3 separate regions of the Homo sapiens genome follow, and all the other regions are linked to region 3. Evidence: fine-mapped expression QTL. A gene starts in region 3. Each other region holds a variant in brackets. All regions are shown on one strand. Distances are from middle to middle.

Region 1 (2,763 bases), 57 kb before region 3:
GGGAATACTGGGTACTGGATGGGGTACAGATATTTTAAACAGAGTGGTGAGAAATAGTTAATACAGCTAGCAACATAAAAAAGGAGAAATATCAAACTGCAAACTGTTTTAGGAAGATAAATCCTTCATAGACCCAAAGAAGCTCACAATTTAGATGTCGAAACTAGTTTCTGCAAAAAGGGGAAAATGTGATTGACTTGGTTAAATATTCAGTATTAAATTTTATTGAATTTGTCTTTAGAAAAATTTCATAGTTAGAACAGGCCTTACCCATTTTGCACATATATACATATGCACCACCTTTGCAGTGGCAACATATATATCCACACTATAAACATACCACATTTATAAATCTTGTAAGGACAAGAAATGGAGTTGAATAAGTACCCCCCAACATATACAAGAAAGTTAGCATACTTACCCCGTTTTTCACTACATCAGAGGCAAAATAAGAAATCTTTTAAGAAAATCTCAAGACTGGCTCATGGCAAAATGAATATGCTAAATTTGGGGGTTGGTTTAAGCGTGGTATGTGTCAGGTAATTTTGTGATTACCAAAAAGTTTTCACTTGAAAACTAAGACCTTTGCTGTTTATTTCACAATGTGAAATCAATAAACCTGAGGATACAAGTCTCTGTAGTGATATTCTGTATTTACTCATTTTTACACATTTTTGAATGCAATTTTGCTAAGGAAGGAAAGCTTACAGATGCATAAAATGTAACTGGGAAGAGTAGCCATAAAAATCAATGAATGGATGTGGCTGGGCAAGAGCCTCTGTAATACTAATACGCTGAATGGCTAATAAGTCACTTCATTTCGGTGAAACAAATACCTAAATTCTTTGAAGAATTAACAGGCTTGATGTTCAGGTCTGCTTTTGGCAAATGGGCATTTAAATACTCCAAGAAGGTAAGAGCCAGAAAATAGGAAGGTAACTATGCTTTTAGAAATATGTTTACTTAGATTCTCCCAAGGTTTATACTTACAGGTAAACTTAGAACAATAGCTCAAATACCTACATAGGAGAAGGAAATCTCAAGGGAAAACAGTTAATTTTAAAGTTATTTAAGAAACAGAATCCAACACCATAGATCAGAGTTCATGCTAGGATTATCATTTCAAAAATAATGACTCATCCAACAGATATAGAATAATAGCACTTTAAAGATGTTTAAGAGTAAAGCACAAACCATGTATATACCAAGACTTAGCTAATTCTCTGAGAGTTATAACTTAA[G/C]ACAATAAAATAATTAAAAATAGTGTTAACATTAAGTAGAATGCAAATCTCTATAGATGGTTTCCTGGGAAAGTAGTTTTGATAAGCTTTCCTAGCATTGATCATCTTCAAAAAAGCATCAATAAACAGTCCATGTCACTTGCTTTAGTTTGTTTGGGCCTACTAATTGCTCCAACACTTCTCGGGAATGATCTATAAAAGAAAACAATGACAATATATTAATTGACAATAAAAAATGTTTAATGTTTCCTCATGTCTAACTGGAGGTGATGTTAATTATTATACAGTTATTTAAAGGATTAAAGGAGGTGATCTATAAAGCACAATATACAACTAACTCACTAATAATTAATTAATGGTAGCCCTCACTATTATTAGGTGTAGTGCACCTATCATGGTATTACTTGTTTAAAAAAAAAAAACAGGCATTTGTTGTTTTCTCTGTAATTTCATCATAATTCCACCAACCAGAGTAATGGTCTAATTTCACCATTAACCTGTGTTAATGGTTAATAACTTTTTTCAGGATCTTAGCCGGAAATAGATGATTCACTAAAGTGGGGTGACTGAACAGCATTTAATGAAGGGAATATTTACCAAAAAAGTAGGATTAAAGAAAGCCAATAGGTACGGTAAACCACCTTGGGAAGCTGCAACACACCCAAAGGGTTAAAGGAGGTAGTAGTCACCGAACGTGACAAGTTGACCTGTAGCTGAACATTTTTCCATGTCTGTATAATACTACTATAAAGCATGATTTTAAATAGATAACCATTATATAAATACACTGTAATTTAACCAATCTATATTATTGGACATTTAGATGTTTTCAGTTTTTCACAATGTACAGTCGTGATTTTGATATGGTTTCCATCCTAGTTTTAGGATGTCTTTTAAAAATCTGAATTAAAGCAAAAATACTGATAAAATTTTGTTAGTTTAAATATTACTCATAAGTTTAATAAACTTGTTTCCATAGATACAACCTATGTTTTATGTACAACATATCTCTAACCTAGTCTTGGAAATCCTGTAATTTGGTGGTTCCTAGACAGATTTCACAGACCAGTAGAAAAAAAAAAAAAGATGGGCCCAACATATACAGTGACAAAATTTTATTTTAAGTTTAACAAAATTAAGCAAAAATACCAAGGTTTATTGCCAGCAAGAGAACCAGAGAGTGTATAGAAATGAAAAGTTATTATCATTGGGAAAACAAAGGTTTACAATTTTTTAAAAAAGCAGCTAGTAAGATAAATGCAGTTTTATTCATGGTCATAAAAATATTATTGGTTATTGTAGAGGAAATCTCAATCAAAGATAGATTCAAATTATGTTGAAAGTAAAAGAATGGACAAAGACATACCATTTAAATGGCAACCATGACAAAGCTGGGTGGCTATAGAAGAAGGGGGAAACACTTTCCAACTCTTTCTGTGAGGCCAGTGTTACCCTGATACCAAAGCCAGACAAAGACATCACATGAAAAAGAAAACTGCAGACAAGGATCTTTTATTAATGT
Region 2 (2,763 bases), 59 kb after region 3:
TTCCGTTTTGCTTAAATCTTTATGTTCTTGGCAAAAGCTTAGATAGGCTTTAAGCTATGAATACAACTTGGGAAGGGCTAACAGCTAATTCCAAAAAAAGAGGCCGGGCGCAGTGGCTCACACCTGTAATCCCAGCGTCTTGGGAAGCCGAGGAGGGTAGATCACGAGATCAGAAGTTCAAGACCAGCCTGGCAGAGATGGTGAAACCCCATCTCTACTAAAAATACAAAAATTAGCTGGGCATGGTGGCAGGTGCCTGTAATCCCAGCTACTTGGGAGGCTGAGGCACAGAATTGCTTGAACCCGGGGGGTGGAGGTTGCAGTGAGCCAAGATCACGCCACTGCACTCCAGCCTGGGCGACAGAGCGAGACTCCATCTCAAAAAAAAAAAAAAAGGAAAACCATCTTTTCTAAAAATCATTAAAACAATTGAAGTTAGTTTTTGAATAAGAAAATAATGCCTAAAACAAATCTGTATCACTAGGCAACATTAAATCTTTATCTCCTCGAGATTACAAGGACTTTCTATTTAGTACACAAGGACCAATTTTTCCAAAACCAAAAAGCCAAGCCTGTTAGCACTTACTGTCACAAATGGTTACCACAAAAACAAAATAATGAAGGTTGAATTTATGGTTTCTGTAAAAGGGAAGCCTCTAGGATCTTTAAAAGTATTTTTTTCTATTTTTAAATATAACATTCATTGTAGAAAGTTTGGAAACATAGTACAAGGAAGAAAATTTTTATAACTTACAATCACATTGCTGAGGATAACATTTTGTTAATGTTTTTGCATAGTTTTTTTTCCAATTTTTGTCTTCCTCTTGTCTGCTTTTTTCTCACATTTTTTTTATTATGAGCAGTGCCATAGCATTACATAAGCTTTTTTCTTTTCTTTTTTTTTTTTTGAGACAGAGTCTCACTCTGTCACCCAGTCTGGAGTGCAGTGGCACAATCTCGGCTCACTGCAAGCTCCGCCGCCTGGGTTCACGCCATTCTCCCGCCTCAGCCTCCCGAGTAGCTGGGACTACAGGTGCCCGCCACCACATCCGGCTAATTTTTTGTATTTTTAGTAGAGATGGGATTTCACTGTGTTAGCCAGGATGGTCCCGATCTCCTGACCTCATGATCCGCCCACCTCGGCCTCCCAAAGTGCTGGGATTACAGAGGTGAGCCACTGCTCCCAGCGCTTTTTTCTTTTTTTTTAAGATGGTGTCTCACTTTATTGCCCAGGCTGGAGTGTAGTGGCTCGATCTCTGCTCACTGCAGCCTCTGCCTCCCAGGTTCAAGTGATTCTCCTGCCTCAGCCTCCCCAGTAGCTAGGATTACAGGCGCCCACTACCAAGCCTGGCTAATTTTTGTATTTTTAGTAGAGATAAGGTTTCGCCATGTTGGCCAGGTTGGTCTCGAACTCCTGACCTCAAGTGATCCGCCTGCCTCAGCCTCCCAACATGCGTGAGCCACCGTGCCCGGCCAGCATTACATAAGCTTTCAAAACATGATTTTTACTATCCTATCCTAAAAGTTTTTTTTTTTTTTTTTTTTTTTTGAGACTGAGTCTCACTCTGTTGACCAGGCTGGAGTGCAGTGGTGCGATCTTGGCTCACTACAAGCTCCGCCTCATGAGTTCACACCATTCTACTGCCTTGGCCTCCCGAGTAGCTGGGACTACAGGCATCCGCCACCA[C/T]GCCCAGCTGATTTTTTGTGTTTTTGGTAGAGACGGGGTTTCACCATGTTAGCCAGGATGGTCTCCATCTCCTGACCTCATGATCTGCCTGCCTCGGCCTCCCAAAGTGCCGGGATTACAGGCGTGAGCCACCACACCCGGTCAAAAGATTATTTTTTAATCTGAAATTATTTCCAAGGTAAATATTTTTCTTCCAGGTATTTTCCTAAGGACCCAAGTTCAAAACCTTGCATTACTCTGGTCTCCCTTTCTTTTTTTTTTTTTTTTGTCTTATGAGAAATCAAGTCTGAATTGATTTGGTTCAGAATCAAACCTGAATCTGATCACTAAATTCTACTAATTCTTTTCTTTCTATGTCTATCCACATAGTTCTGGCCCGGCCAGGCCCCTGTTTCCTCAGCCCAGATTATTGAAGTACTTTTCTGACTTTTTTATTTCTTTGTAGCCTCTTTTCTCTATGGTAATCTATTTTACATATCTCTTTGCATCATTACCTTGACAAAAATATTGACTGCCTCTACCTTATATGGCAGAGGTCCCAAACTTGAGCTCCAAGGCTGAACATAGTCTGCAAATTTGTTTTTCTACAACTCCACAGTGCTCTGACCATTATTTTTAAATTTGCTGGAATCCTTTCAAAGGGCCCCAGGTTTCACTGATTTGTGTTACCTGCCTGGCGTCTAGGCTTCCAGGTATGGCTGAGTAGACTTTGCTTTTTTTTTTTTTTTTTTTTCTGAGACAGAGTCTTGCTCTGTCTCCCAGGCTGGAGTGCAATGGCACGATCTCGGCTCACTGCAACCTCCACCTCCTGGGTTCAAACGATTCTCCTGCCTCAGCCTCCTGAGTAGCTGGGATGACAGGCGCATGCCACCACGCCCAGCTAATTTTTGTATTTTAGTAGAGATGGGGTTTCACCATGTTGGCCAGGCTGGTCTCGAACTCCTGACCTTGTGATCTGCCTGCCTCGGCCTCCCAAAGTGCTGGGATTGCAGGCGAGAGCCACCACGTCCAGCCGACTTTGCATTTTATAACTCCAGAGGGCACTGTGCACATAACATAAAAAGTTGTGCAGTGCA
Region 3 (2,763 bases):
CTACCAATGTTCAAAAATAACCCCCTTGACAAAGCTTTCTCCTATTCTTTTCCTTATTAGAAATTTCAAAAGTTTGTTACTCTCCCGCTTGTGATATTATTCTACATATATTATAGTTATTTATTTTATTTTTTTGAGACAGTCTCGCTCTGTCGCCTAGCAGCCTAGGCGTGCAGTGGCGCGATCTCAGCTCACTGCAACCTCTGCCTCCTGGGTTGAGGCGATTCTCCTGCCTCAGCCTCCAGAGTAGCTGGGACTACCGGCGCCACTACTACTCCTGGCTAATTTTTGTATTTTTAGTACATGCCGCGGTTTTGCCGTGCTGGCTAGGCTGGTCTCCAACTCTCCTGATCTCAAGTGCCTCGGCCTCCCAAAGTGCTGGGATTACAGGCGTGAACCACCGTGCCCAGATAATTTTTGTATCTTTAGTAGAGGCGGGGTTTCGCCACGTTGCCCAGGCTGGTCTCGAACTCCTGAGCTCAAGCAGTTCTCCCACCTCGGCCTCCCAAGTTTAATGTAAAATATCAGATGCCATTGTTTCAGAAAGCCTTCAGTAGATTAAGGAGATTGTTCTCCTTATCCTTAAGATGTCTATTTTTTACATGGCAATATTAACGGACTGAAAGCTCCTGGAGAGACGCAATTGCCCTTGTAACTTCCATTTCCGTACAATTTCTGGTAGGAAATAATAATAACAATAACACTTAGTGGTGTTTATTATTTGCTGGGCATCCTTATAAGGGTTTTACATGTTTTAAATTTATCCCTCAGGACAACTCCATGTGATGGGTGCTATTATCACAAAAATTTTATAGATAAAGAACCTAGGCACAGGGAGAGGTTACGTTACCGGTCCATGGTCACGTGGCTGGTGAATGGCAGAGCCGGGGGCTGAACCCAGCAATCTCAGCCAGGGATCCGTGGTCTTAACCACTTTGTTACCTTTATCCCAGGGTCTGTCAATGTTTATTCCAGTTACAGGGGTGGAATTCTGCTAGAAGCTTTTGAGAACCTCATCTAGCGTTGTGTTTTTTTCTACCAAGGCTTTTAGCTGCTAAGAGAGAGGCCACTGCCAGTAACAGCCGGGGCGCCGAGCTGTCAAGGCTGACGGAGGAATGGACGCTCATCGCGCAGCGGAGTGTTGGAGGGGCAAGCCCGCCAAGAGACCCACTTTGCACAACTGTCCTCAGCCAGGAAACGACAGATCAGGAACCCAGGGACAGAAACACACGCGGGGCCTCTTCAGAGGTCGGCGGGGGGGGTGGGAAAGGGGCGGGGAGGAAGAGCAGCGCAGGGCCTGGCCGTTTGGAGGAGGTGCTGGGGCGGCGCGAAGGGAGGCGGGACAGGGTAGACTCACAGATCCAGGAGCTGACTGACCCGCCGTGGGCGAGGCATCGCTGCAGCGTCTGAAGCCTCTTCCGCGGTCCCAGGGCCTCCAGAACCCAGCCAGGGACCGTCCGCCAACTCCCGCCCACCGCGCGACGCGTAGGTTTTTGTGACGTCACACGGATTTTTCCGGTGACCGGGGCGTGGCCACGCTTCGGACTCCACAAGGAAAGAAGAGAGCCCCCTTTGGGGCGGAGCCACTGAGGGCTGCGCGGAAGAGGCTGGGTGTGATAAACTATAAAGAGGCCCTAAACTCGGATGCAACGTGACGGGAGTTGTAGTTCTTTCACCTGGCGGGCGTCTGCTCCGGTTCAGCTGCAGGAGGTTTCTTGGGAGTTCAGCCCAGCGCGCAGCCCCGCCGCGACGCCGCGAGCCGAGAACTCTCCTGGGGCGAAGGGAGCGCTGAGAAGTCGCTACTCTTACTAAAAGGATGCGTTGGATGCTGGGCCATACCCTTGGCGATGCACACTGGAGACCCGCTCGGATACGGACTCCATTAACATCAAACGGAGCGTGTTAGAGGATCCGAGTTTACTGAGCACTTTCTAGGAAGCGTGCACTGAGCTACGTGCTTTCTAGGCCTTAGTTCAATACTTAACCATATTCATTATAATCCGGTGAAATCGTAATTATTTAGCCTTATTTTACAGATGAGGACACTGCGTACCAACAAGTAACCTCACTAAGAATTTCGTCATGGAGGAGAAGGGAACCTGTATTCAAATTAGGAAGGATCCTGAAGAAAGGGCACCTTTAGGTGGAATTTTATCTTTGGTTCTGCTGCAGAGTACTTGCTGCTTTTTAGTGCTCCCTCCACCCCCCTCATTCTTCCTTGTAGATTAGTCTGTTGTTTGTATGCTGAGTTCCTTTTTTAAGCTCCTTGAAAGTTGGAACCCACTGCTGTTGCCTGTTCAGGATGCTACACATTGAATCAACATGGATTTATTAAGCGCTGAACGAGGGCTAGGGATCGTGCTGGGTGCTGAGGATTGAGTGGCGAACACTTGGGTCAGACAAGTAAAAGGGCAATTAGAATAACTGTTAAATGCTTAGATGGGGTTAGTTCTATGGAAGCACCCATGGGGGTGGGATACAGATCAGAGAGAAAAGGGTGGTCTGCAAATAGTTTGGGATGGCTACACTGGAGAGTGATCAAGAGTGAGTGTAGGGCAGGGGTTGGCCGACTTTTTCCATAAAGTGCTCTGAAAGTTGCAGATTCCAGGAGAAGTAACTATTGTCAGACCCAGACAAATTGGAGCCTAGAGACCAGAAAGGAAGGAAACTCATGCTTGTATGTCTGAGATAAGAACTGTCTCAAGGCCAGACGCGGTGGCTCACACCTGTAATCCTAGTACTTTGGGAGGCCGAGGCGGGCGG

What was found. PIP is the estimated chance that this variant, and not a neighbour inherited with it, causes the effect.
Region 1: its variant is fine-mapped to the expression of AMN1 in whole blood (TOPMed, PIP 0.97).
Region 2: its variant is fine-mapped to the expression of AMN1 in whole blood (INTERVAL, PIP above 0.99).

What each region holds. Positions count from the first base shown.
Region 1 is chr12:31,670,945-31,673,707 of GRCh38, forward strand. ETFBKMT (electron transfer flavoprotein subunit beta lysine methyltransferase) reads left to right here. Exons shown (of 4, transcript NM_001135863.2): 4 at 1-2,170. It overlaps AMN1 (antagonist of mitotic exit network 1 homolog), which reads right to left. Exons shown (of 7, transcript NM_001113402.2): 7 at 198-1,433. The coding sequence ends at 1,360. Among named protein-coding and RNA genes, the nearest start is that of ETFBKMT, 13 kb to the left of the region's middle. The variant G/C (reference allele first, on the strand shown) is at 1,242.
Region 2 is chr12:31,786,990-31,789,752 of GRCh38, forward strand. No RefSeq gene overlaps it. Among named protein-coding and RNA genes, the nearest start is that of H3-5, 3.9 kb to the right of the region's middle. The variant C/T (reference allele first, on the strand shown) is at 1,688.
Region 3 is chr12:31,727,614-31,730,376 of GRCh38, forward strand. AMN1 (antagonist of mitotic exit network 1 homolog) reads right to left here and starts at 1,408. Exons shown (of 7, transcript NM_001113402.2): 1 at 1,358-1,408. The coding sequence starts at 1,395. AMN1-AS1 (AMN1 antisense RNA 1) reads left to right here and starts at 1,652. Exons shown (of 1, transcript NR_198987.1): 1 at 1,652-2,763. It overlaps LOC105369722 (a long non-coding RNA gene), which reads left to right. Exons shown (of 3, transcript XR_931497.3): 3 at 1,044-1,277. RefSeq lists a silencer at 1,197-1,276 and enhancers at 1,327-1,676, 1,689-2,321, 1,717-1,916.